Homo sapiens: one gene and its partner. The protein of the gene in region 1 interacts with the protein of each later gene in a biochemical or structural test. Each region holds a gene or a part of one and is shown on either strand. Other genes may lie near its edges.

Region 1 (7,100 bases):
GGACTGAGCGACCCACACACAGGAGCTGGCGAAGGTCAGTGTAACGGGTGAGGTCACCTGAGCATCGTGGTCTCCTACGCCACGCCTCAGGCATGGTGCCCAGGCTGAGGGCAGCTGGGGCAGTGGCCCAGGACCGGGAACAGGCCTGGGTCTTCCGCCAGCTGTCCTGGCCAGCCAGACTGAGTCAGGGAATGGGTGTCTGGAGTCCTGTCTGCCATCGGAGACCCCAGGCCTCCCCGCCCCCACCCCTCTGACGATGCTAAGCCTCACGTGTGACTCAGATCACAGGGTGACTCACAGCCTTTGGAAACTGCTGTTTCCAACTCCCTCATTAGCAGGGGGGGCGACACTATCCTTCCCCCAACCAGGGCAACAGTTCCCTTTACTCATTTGCCAGCGTCTACACACAAAACTGTGAGGGCTGTGCCGCCTAAGCACCAGTGTGAGTGAACAAAAGCATCCTGGGGACAGGACTTTTTCAACCCCAGCTGTTAGGAGACAATTGGGCACTAACCAACCACCATTTCCTTAATACCTCTCCTAGCCTCACCCTACGCCCCCAGTCCACCCTGTGGTTTAGGATCCGGCCCATCATCAGACCCATATTCCTCTGAGTCCCTTTTAAGGTGGGTGCAGGAGCATTTGTTATAAGAGAAACGTACAACCCGAATTCTTCCATTCCAGTCTCCCTCTATCGGTGTGTCTGTGGTGGATATCAGGGGAAGGGGGACTTTCCTGTAGCTAGAGCTCTCTGGGGGATGGCCAGAAGCCATTCTCAGCCCTTCTGAGACTTGGCCAACCCCTGCCAAAGCCAGGAGAACCAGAGTCTTTCTAGCAATGTCCTAGGCTGGCAGCCACAGCTGAGACCTGCCTTTCTGCCTCTGACTGCTTCACAGCAGGGAGGTGTACAGGGTGTCCTTCCAGGAGTGAGGCCTGTAACCGGGTAAGGGGGAGGCGCCCAAGGCCCTAGGTGGGCAGGGACAATGGCCCTCACTGCTGCCCCCACAGGCCCTGCTGCAGGTGGCTGGGTTGACTCATGGTTCTGGGAGTCACCTTTCTCTGACGAAGAAAAGGCTCCACAAAGGCGGGTACTCCCCCATTGCCCCCCACCAGCATGTCACGTCTGTGGGGGAGATGGGGTGGGGGGTGGGGTTGGGAGAGGCAGAGAAGAAAGAGCACCTCGTTGGGGGGGGGGGCAACCGTTTTCGGAAATGGCAGCAAAAGCCGTCTGAGAGGGAGCGGGGGGGGGTGGTCTGCCATTTCTGCCTCAACCCACACCTTCTTTCCCCTGGGACTGGGAAAGAACCCTAGCACACCAAGAGGGTGCCCCTAGAGAACGAGAGCAGCTTCCAGGCAGAGGGCCAGTGGAACGGCTCACCAACCACCCACCTCCTTTTGGTGTCCCTGCATTACCTCCACACCCGGCCAGCTTCCTCCCTGGTACCCACCTGCTAGCTGCTCTAGGCCCATACATCTCTTGCCTCCGCAGACACAGGGCAAGCTCTTTCAGGATCTGCCTCCTTTTTCTCTTTCTGCTTTCCTCCCTCCTTCCCTTCCCCCCTACCCACAGGCCACGTGTTGGAATGACAAAGGAGCCCCATGGCATGGCACTGCCTTTGATGGAGAAGAATGAGGAGGATGTTAAGGTAGAGGCAGGAAGGAAAAATGGGGAGAAAATGGCGAGGGGGACTGTTGAGGTACAGGGAGGGGAGATGGCTGATACAGAAAATGAGGTACTGATGGAGGGGGATGAGTGACAGATGGAAATGGCTGAGGTGGAAAATGGGTTAATGATGGGTTGAAAGGGAGGAATGTGGAGAGTTGAAATAATGGAGGAAATGTCTGTGGAAAATGGATACCTGAAGGGTTTGAGAAAAGGAATGATAAGGGGTGCAATTCATTCAAATATGTGGGTGAGGCCGGAGGGGGGTTCCTGTATGTCACAGAGGGGATGAGGATGAGTTGGAGGAAGCAGGAAGGCAATGGAGGGGATGGCCGCGTGGAGGGTTTGACTGGGTATGGGTGTGAGTGCCCTTCTCCGGAGGGACTTACCGAAACTTTACAAACCCATTCAGCGTCCACGCTCGAAGTTTTAAGGGCTCCAGCTGAATTTTAAACATCAAGCTGGCTAAGAAGTCTTCTCCCCAGGAGTGTGGGAAGCTCCGGAAAGCTCCTCGGGCCTGCAGTGGGGGTGCTGCTGGGGGTGGGCAGGAGAGCACTGTGCGCTTAAACATGCCCAGCCAAGCCCCTCACCTCTGATCGCTCCACCGGAGCCGGCCTGAAGTGCTGCAGCTCTGGAAGCCACCTCCTTGGACTCTCAGAGGCGCGTGCCCAGCAAGGCCTGTCTGGCGCAGCAGGTGCCGGACCTGATCCCCAAATGTGGAGAGTGAAGGGAGAAGACCCGCGGCCACCTGCTCTCAGGTGCAGCAGTGTCTGGCTGGCTGTGAGCGGCTGTATGGCAGCGTGTCAGTGAGGCTGGGAGTGCAAGCGTGTGTTTGTGAGTGGCAGCGTGTATACCTGTGACAGGTGTGATTGTGAGGGCCCGAGAGGCAGTGAGCTCCTGTCGCCTCTCACTGGGGAGGACCCGACCCCAATCCCCAAGAACCTACTCAATGAAGTCACTGACGGGAGTCTCCTCCCTCGCAGATGGGCGGGGCAGAGCGGAGCTCGGCCGGGACAAAAGGCGCGGCGAGGAGAGGAGGGGAGGGGGCTCGGGCGGGGGAGGGTGGTCGGTGATGTCACCCGCGCTGGCTGGCTGGTCTGCTCACAGATGCCTCCGCCCCACAGAACCCAATCTGGTCCGGTCCGACTCGACCCTCCCCTCCCCTCCCCTCCCCGACTCAGACGCTGGCTGCCCCCTGTGACAGCCAAGCCCTGGTCTAGGACTCCGAGCACCCTGCAGACCCCGGGGCCCCGCATCCCCAAGGCAGCAGAGCCTACGGGCCCTCAGTGTCCCAACCCCCCAACACCAGGAGCCCTGGCTTCACGACGCCCCGCTCCCGGGACCCCCGAGTCCTGGCTTGGCGCCCTCACCGGTGAGGAGCTGCGGGCGCCGCCGTGGTCCGTGAGACAGCCGCTGCCCCCTCCCCCGGCTCCGGCTCCGCCGCCTCCACCCGGGACAGGAGTCGCCTGCCCGCCGGCCGCCGATAGCGGGACCGGGAGCCCGCCCCCACGGCTCCGCCTCCGCGCCGCCCATTGAACCGTCTTCCTGTCACTCAGCTCAGCCTCCACTGTGATTGGGCAGTTTTCAACAAGCGGCTTGGTGATAGCCGCCCATCCTCCGCCCCTGTCACCCGGCCACACGCGCACACATTCCAGGCAGTGATTGGTGTGGATCTGATTGGCGCCCTCTGGGATCACTCAACCACGCCTCTTTGCCATCTTGTCGTGCCATTGGTGAAAAAGACAGAGGGCGGCAACCTCGCTCGCCCTTTGATTTTATTGGTTCGTGCCTGAGACTCAGACCCGAGCCCGGGGGCAAACTATATTAGTCCAATCTCCGGGTTGAGAAGGTGGGACGTACTGGCCACTGCTCGAATCCCAGGAGAACCTTCTGGAACCCTTGCGACGTCAAAGGCAGCCTTAAAGGAAAACTGTACCCACCAGTTGGCCGTGCGGCCGTGCATTCTTTCCTTTCTTCATTGGGGGGCAAGAGGGAGAGAACAGTGCACTCTGGGAGGTGTAGTCCCTGGACCGGGGCCAAAAGGTCAGCACTTCTTACTCGCCTTTCAGCCAACGGTGTAACCACCTCAAGCTGACCTCATTTAGCTTTACCTTATCCTGACCCCGCGGTGGCCTGATGTGACCTAACGGAATCTCTAACAGACCCCACGGATGCCGGGTTTCAGAGCCCCCCGGACCTCTCCCCCGAGGGAAACGGATGGCTCTGCCCAGGCCGGTGCCTCCAGGAATCTCCCCCGCCCACCCTCTGTACAGCCCCTCATCCTCGCGCCCCTCTTCAGCGACCCCGCGGTCTCCATTTCAGTCCCTCTTCTAATCAGTCTCTCATCCTGCTTCCCCCTGGAGTGCCTGTGTTTTAGCCCTTTCCTTCTTGGCCCTAGATGATCTCCTGTCTTCCTTCCCGCAGTGATCCCTTTTGTCTTATTCTTGGTTCTTTCTTTACACCCCGATCTCCTATCCTAGCTCTCCCCTTTCATCTTTCATCTCACTCCCCAAGATCCCCTTCCTTAACACCCTCAGAATCTCTAGTCTCCCCCACCCCCCATTAAGTCATTAGATCTCAGCCCCAGTGTCCCCGATGCAGGGAGCAGGCGGGGCTGCGGAGGCGGTCGCCAGCGGAAGCCGCCACTCCAGCAGACACGGTGCCTGGCGCCCACGTCACTGTCTCCCAGGCCCATCTGTGCTCGAGGGAGCGGGGGTGGGGAGGGAGTAATTTGGGGGTGAAGTGGGGGAGGGGAGTGCTGGGGGGTTGATGATGATAGAAGGGTCAGGCCGGAAGCTCCCCTTTACTTCTTTCTTTCCTATTTTCCAGAGACAGAGTTTGGACACCCATGAGGTCTTGCTAGAAACTGCAGCTTGAGTACCTGGGCCAAGAGCAGAGCAAGGCGGGGGGGGGGTGCCAGGGTCCTGGAGTCATGTCTGTAGATTCTTCACTACCTACCTTCATGCCAGGAGTCACTATGGGGCTCCCAAGGGTAAAGGGGCATGAGGTGTGAAGGAAGAAAGAGACTTGGGGTGAAAGGAGGATGGAAAGGAAGTGGGGTTGGGGGCCAGGAGGGGAGCAGAGATGGGTGATGAATGTGGGGAAATGAGCATGAGGAATTTGAGGAAATGGGGTTGAGGGGGGGAGGTAGGGAGAGGGGGTGGTGAGAGGATGGTGAGATGGGGTGAGGGGGATGAGGAGGGGAGGGGCATGGGGCAGATGAGCCATAGGGTGGGAGTAAGGAGGGCAGAGGAAAGGAGGGCTGGGGAGGGGAGGGAAGGCAGGGTGGGGGATAAGGAAAGAAGGGCTGGGGAGGGGCAGGAAGGCAGGGTGAGGGATGAGGAAAGAAGGGGTGAGTAATGAAAGGATGAGGCACAGAGATGGGGTGAGGAGGAGTGAGGAAGGGGGAGGGGAGGGAGGAGGGATGGACATCTCTGTGTGACACAGAGATGGGTAAGGTGGGGTGAGGGGCCCTGCACCGCTGCTGGCTCCTCAGATCTGGGGGCTCTCACTCTTCCACCTCCACACCTGTGGGGCCCAGGCTGTGGGTGGCTCTACTTCTTCCTATTCCAGTTCTGTCTCTTTTGCCTCCCCCAGCCTTGCCTGTGCCAACACGGAGGCAGAGAGTTTAGTCACCAGCCTTTACCTGGCCCCTGCTAATGCTAAAGTGTAGGCTCGGACCTTTGAGGGTGCAGAACTGTGCCTTCAGGTGTTGGTGGCACAGACTCCACTGTTTGCCTAGTCCTCGGTTCCCGCCCTCAGTCCCATTGTCCTGGGTGTCACGTGTGTGTAGTGCTCAGTGTGGCATGGACTGTGACAGTGTGGTCTGGAGTCTATGCACCTTGTGAGCTTACACGCCACACTCATGCCTCATCTCCTTTGTAAATGGGGATTGGTGCCTCAGGGGGTTGTTGAGAGGGTTAATTAAGGTAACACAGGTAGTGCACTTAGTTCTGAGCTGGGCATGTAGTTTATACCCAACCAATGGTTAACTTGGTTAACTCAACCAAGTTAACCATTACTCTACATGTTCACAGATGCTGGGAGTGCGAGTGCATCTATAAATCTGTGAGTCTGGGAGTTATTTGTAGTGTGGTACTGGTAATGTGATTTGTGAGTGGATCTGTGCAGTTATTTTTGTGTGGTGGTGTGCCTGATTCTGTTATATGTTGTAGGTATATGATTTTGGGTCAGTGTACATGTGTGAGTAAATGACTGTGCGGGCATGTGTCTACATGACAAAGAGTGGATAAGGTATATAGGCACTGACACATTGACACCATGTCTGCCAGCGTATGCACGCATCTGCGATCATGCCAGTCCCAAACGCCCCCACTCACCCTCCCTCCCCTTGGAGACGTCATAACCCTAGGTGTCCCTCATTTCCTCACCCTGAGGGAACCGGAACCCGTGGGCAGGGGTGGGGGTGGGTGCCAGTGAGGAGGTGTTTTAGACAGAGGCACATGTTCCCTCCCAGACTGTATAGGGAAGGGAGCCCCTATCCTGCTCACATCCCGAAGGCTGCAGAGGAAGTGCCCCCAGCCTGTTTTCAGTTCCCTGTCTTGTCACCATGGTAATGGTTGCCAGGGGTTCCCATGGTTGCTAAGATCTGGGTGTGGGAGGCTGCCAGGCCCTGTTGCCAGTAGAAACAGAGAATCCTGGGGGGAAGGAAGACTACCCTCACAGCTGCCACCTCCCTGCAGTGACAGAACTGGCCCTTGGGCCACTTCTCTCCCCCAGTTGTACCTATGAGTTGTATGTGGTAGTACTAGTGTGTGTGTGGGAGCAGGAGCGGGGGCTTTAACAGGAAACCAGAACTAGAATACTGGGATACTAGAATACTGAGGAACAGGGGGCTACTTGGCCTACCCATCACCATCCTTAAAGTTGGGAGGGCCTTACGAATTAGTGACTACCTGCCATCTCTACTAAAATACAAAAAAAATTAGCCAGGTGTTGTGGCACATGCCTGTAATCTCAGCTACTCAGGAGGCTGAGGCAAAAGAATCGCTTGAACCCAGAAGGCAGAGGTTGCAGTGAGCCGAGATCGCGCCACTGCACTCCAGCCTGGGTGACAGAGTGAGACGAGACTCCCTGTCAAAAAAAAAAAAAAAAGAAAAGAAAAGAAAAGAAAAAAAAGAAATGAGTGACTATCTCCTGCTGTCCCCTGTCCCTCATATCTCTCCCCTGGGCAGTCTCCATGTTTGTTCTTGAGTTCTCCAGTGCCTGGGTACTCATTACCTGATGCTTTCTCCTGGGTGTAGGAATGCCACGTTGACCCATCACCTTGGCTGCAGATGGCCTCCCTCCTGTGATCAGACTCTGAGCATCTCACCTGATACATGCTTCATGCTGACACTCAGGCCCAGACTTTGGTCCCACACTGAGTCCCAACTTTGACCTCAGCCTGAGACACAACCTGGTTATTGTCCTGGTA
Region 2 (3,207 bases), on another chromosome or scaffold:
AACTCAGACACCTCTCCCTTTGACGTCTTTTTCTGATTATTTACCTTCACGCGTTTCAGGAAACTTACTTGGCTCTTAGAGTGCCAAGGCCCAGGCAGATGGATCAACTGAGGTCAGGAGTTCAAGACCAGCCTGGCTCAGTAAGCACATTCATTCTCTTGGCAAAAATCTTGCCCTTGTTTACAATGCCAACAGCATGCTGGGTAACACTGTAGACTCTTCCAGCTTTGCTGTGGTAACATTTGCGGAGCACTCCTTTTTGAAAAGCAGCCATTCCCTTGATGTCTACAATATCACCTTTTTCGTAGATTCGCATGTATGTGGCCAAAGGAACAACTCCATCTTTTCTAAAAGGCCTAGAGAACATGTATCAGGTGCCTCACCTCTTTCCCTTTGTGTTCGTCATTTTGGCAAATTACTGGAAGATGGCCCTTCCGGCTAAAAGGAAACGCATTGAGTCTTCATGATGCTACAATATCATTCTAGTGAGACCCTAAATCTCTCAAATTTTGAAATGTTTACTTGTTCAGTTTTTAAAATAACACAAAAGGAGTCATTTTGAATAAGAATTTTTCTTCGTTTCTTAGGTTACTTACACAGAGTCGCCCTTTAATAAGTAACGTACTTGTAACATCTACAATTAAACGTAGAAGAATCCAGCTGTTTCTGTGCTGGGCTTATGGACATATTCAAACCAGAATAATGTGAGATGCTGAATGATATGCTCAGGCTTTTTTAAAACCTTTTAGAATAGGATAGATGTTTTCAAATGCTTCATAGATCTCAGAACGTTCTTTGGCACCTATAAAGAAATCCAGGTTTATATAATTTTTAATATAAAAATACCAACATTTACTTAAACACTAAAATTTCATTGTATTGTCTCCAATTACTTTTAATATGACATCTCTTTAGCTGTACCTGAGAAATGGCATTTATTCCGGGTAAATAATTTGGCAACTACAGCCATATTTCCACAAGACAGAAACCTTAGAGCAGAGTTTTCTAGAACTTCTCTGTGGGTGTCATCTTTGCTCACACAGTGCTCAGTATGAAATGTGGAATGTTATCTCTACATGTGCCATGAATATGGCCTCAGAGTAATTTCATCAGCACCTGCGGGCACTTAGCTACCAGCAAAAGGGACTTCTTTTGATCCACGTCCTCTCTAGTTAACATCTTGATTCCCTAATATTGATAACAGATGGAGACAAATGAGCTTTAAATTTGTTTTAAATTTTAGTTTAAAATTCTAAATTTAAAAGAGTTTTAAATTTTAGTGCATGGGAAGGGATTATTAGAGGGGAAAACTGTACTACTGTCACTCGTAAAGTCTTGTTTCAAGAAATTGTAAATCATAACTGCTGTAGGAATTACAGGGATAAAAACATGAATCAAACAGTCTCCACCATTGAGAAGTATTAGTCCCTACTCATCTCTCACCAACAACCAAACACCACCATTACCTCCAGCTTCCAAATTATGCAGGCACGTTGTGCTAAGGGTCATGTACTTGTACTACTTATATTTATATGGAGCTTCAGCTAATCAGGACACTAATCAGTTAATCTGATATTTTGTGGGCTGGAGGCAAGGAAGGAAGAAAGGAGGATAATGAAAGGACTATAACAACTGTTAGCATGAAGAGAAATGGAAAATAGCTTTAGTTGATAAAGACTCTTAAGAACTATAAAGTACATTGCTGATAGGAACAAAAAATGGCTCAGCTACTGTGGAAACTAGTTCGGTGGTTAAGTTAAAGAATTACTACATGACCCAACAATTTCACGCCTTGGTAAATACACCCCAAATTGAAAACAGGTACTCAAAAAAAATACTACGCACTTTCATTGCAGCACTATTCACACTTGCCAAAAGGTGGAAACAGCTTAAATGCCCGTCAATGGATGGATAACAATTTATAGTGTAGGCGGGGCGTGGTGGCTCACACCTGTAATCCCAGCACTTTGGGAGTCCCAGGCAGGTGGATCACCTGAGGTCAGGAGTTCAAGACCAGCCTGGCCAACACGGCGAAACCCCCGTCTCTACTAAAAATACAAAAGAAAATTAGGCGTGGCGGTGGGCGTCTGTCATCCTAGCTATTTGGGAGGCTGAGGCAGGAGAATTGCTTGAATTTGGGAGGCGGGGGTTGCAATGAGCAGAGTTCGCACCATTACACTCCAGCCTGGGCGACACAGCGAGACTCTGTCTCAAAATAAAAAAATGTATGGTGTGTATATACAATAGAATATTAGTCATAAACAGAAATGAAGTACACATGCTACAACATATAGCATGTTTCTTAGGCTCATCTAAGTGAAAAGCCAGACATGAAAAGTCACATGTTATAAGATTCTATGTATAAGAAGTATCCAGAAGAGTTAAATCCATGGAGACAGAATTCAGATTGGTAGTTGCCAGGGGAAGTGAGGAGAGGGGAATGGGGGGAATGGTTTAATGATATCAGGTTTTATTTTGGAGCAATAGAAATGTTTTAGAACTAGGTAGAGCCGGTGGTATATTCACAATACACAACCAGCTACTAAATGCCACTGAACTGTTCACTTTAAAATGGTTAAATTTGTTATGTGCGTTCACCTTAAATATTAAACAATCAGGGATGAAGTCCTTATAAGCTTAATTTTTTAAGAAATAAGGGCAGGCATGGTGGCTCACACCTGTAATTCCAGCACTTTGGGAGGCCAAGGTGGGAGGATCCCTTGAGCCCAGGAGTTTGAGACCAGCCCGGGTAACATAGGGACACCCTGTCTCCATAAAAATAAAGGAAAAAAATAAAAAGAGAAAAAATAAAGAGAAGAAAAGTTATTTATTCATTGCCAAAAAGTTTACTATCTGTAGGTCTTCACCTTCAAAGATTTGCGGTGGGGAGGAGAGTGAGTTACTGACACACATAAGAGAAACTGGTTCTTTGGGGTAGAAAAAGCCACAAGTTTCAGCAGATTTTTAGTTCCAGCTCTAAAATTTTGGTTTCTACAAAACCAAACTCTTTAGAAACTAAACAGTGAGTTGGTGAAGAAGCAAGAACCACTGCCTCTGGTTTGATGGACTTTTTGGGCTTCTAGCTGCATTCGTCTTGAACAACCTTGTTAGCAGACAATGAAGCATAATAGGTACAGCAAACACACACATGCCCCTCTCCCAAAATCCCCAAAACCAAGGTTCTTCTTTTCATATTTAATTGAGGAA

What was found.
Region 2: the proteins of DNAJB5 (region 1) and TBPL2 form a complex in vitro, tested with the Homo sapiens proteins (one study listed by BioGRID).

The regions. Positions count from the first base shown.
Region 1 is NC_000009.12:34,985,765-34,992,864, reverse strand, and holds the start of DNAJB5 (dnaJ homolog subfamily B member 5), read right to left. Parts: upstream 3,121-7,100; 5' UTR 3,034-3,120; intron 2,576-3,033; exon of another isoform or gene 2,367-2,575; 5' UTR 2,235-2,366; coding exon 2,053-2,234; intron 1-2,052.
Region 2 is NC_000014.9:55,413,654-55,416,860, forward strand, and holds the end of TBPL2 (TATA box-binding protein-like 2), read right to left. Parts: intron 803-3,207; coding exon 726-802; 3' UTR 557-725; downstream 1-556. UniProt on the Homo sapiens protein: Transcription factor required in complex with TAF3 for the differentiation of myoblasts into myocytes. The complex replaces TFIID at specific promoters at an early stage in the differentiation process.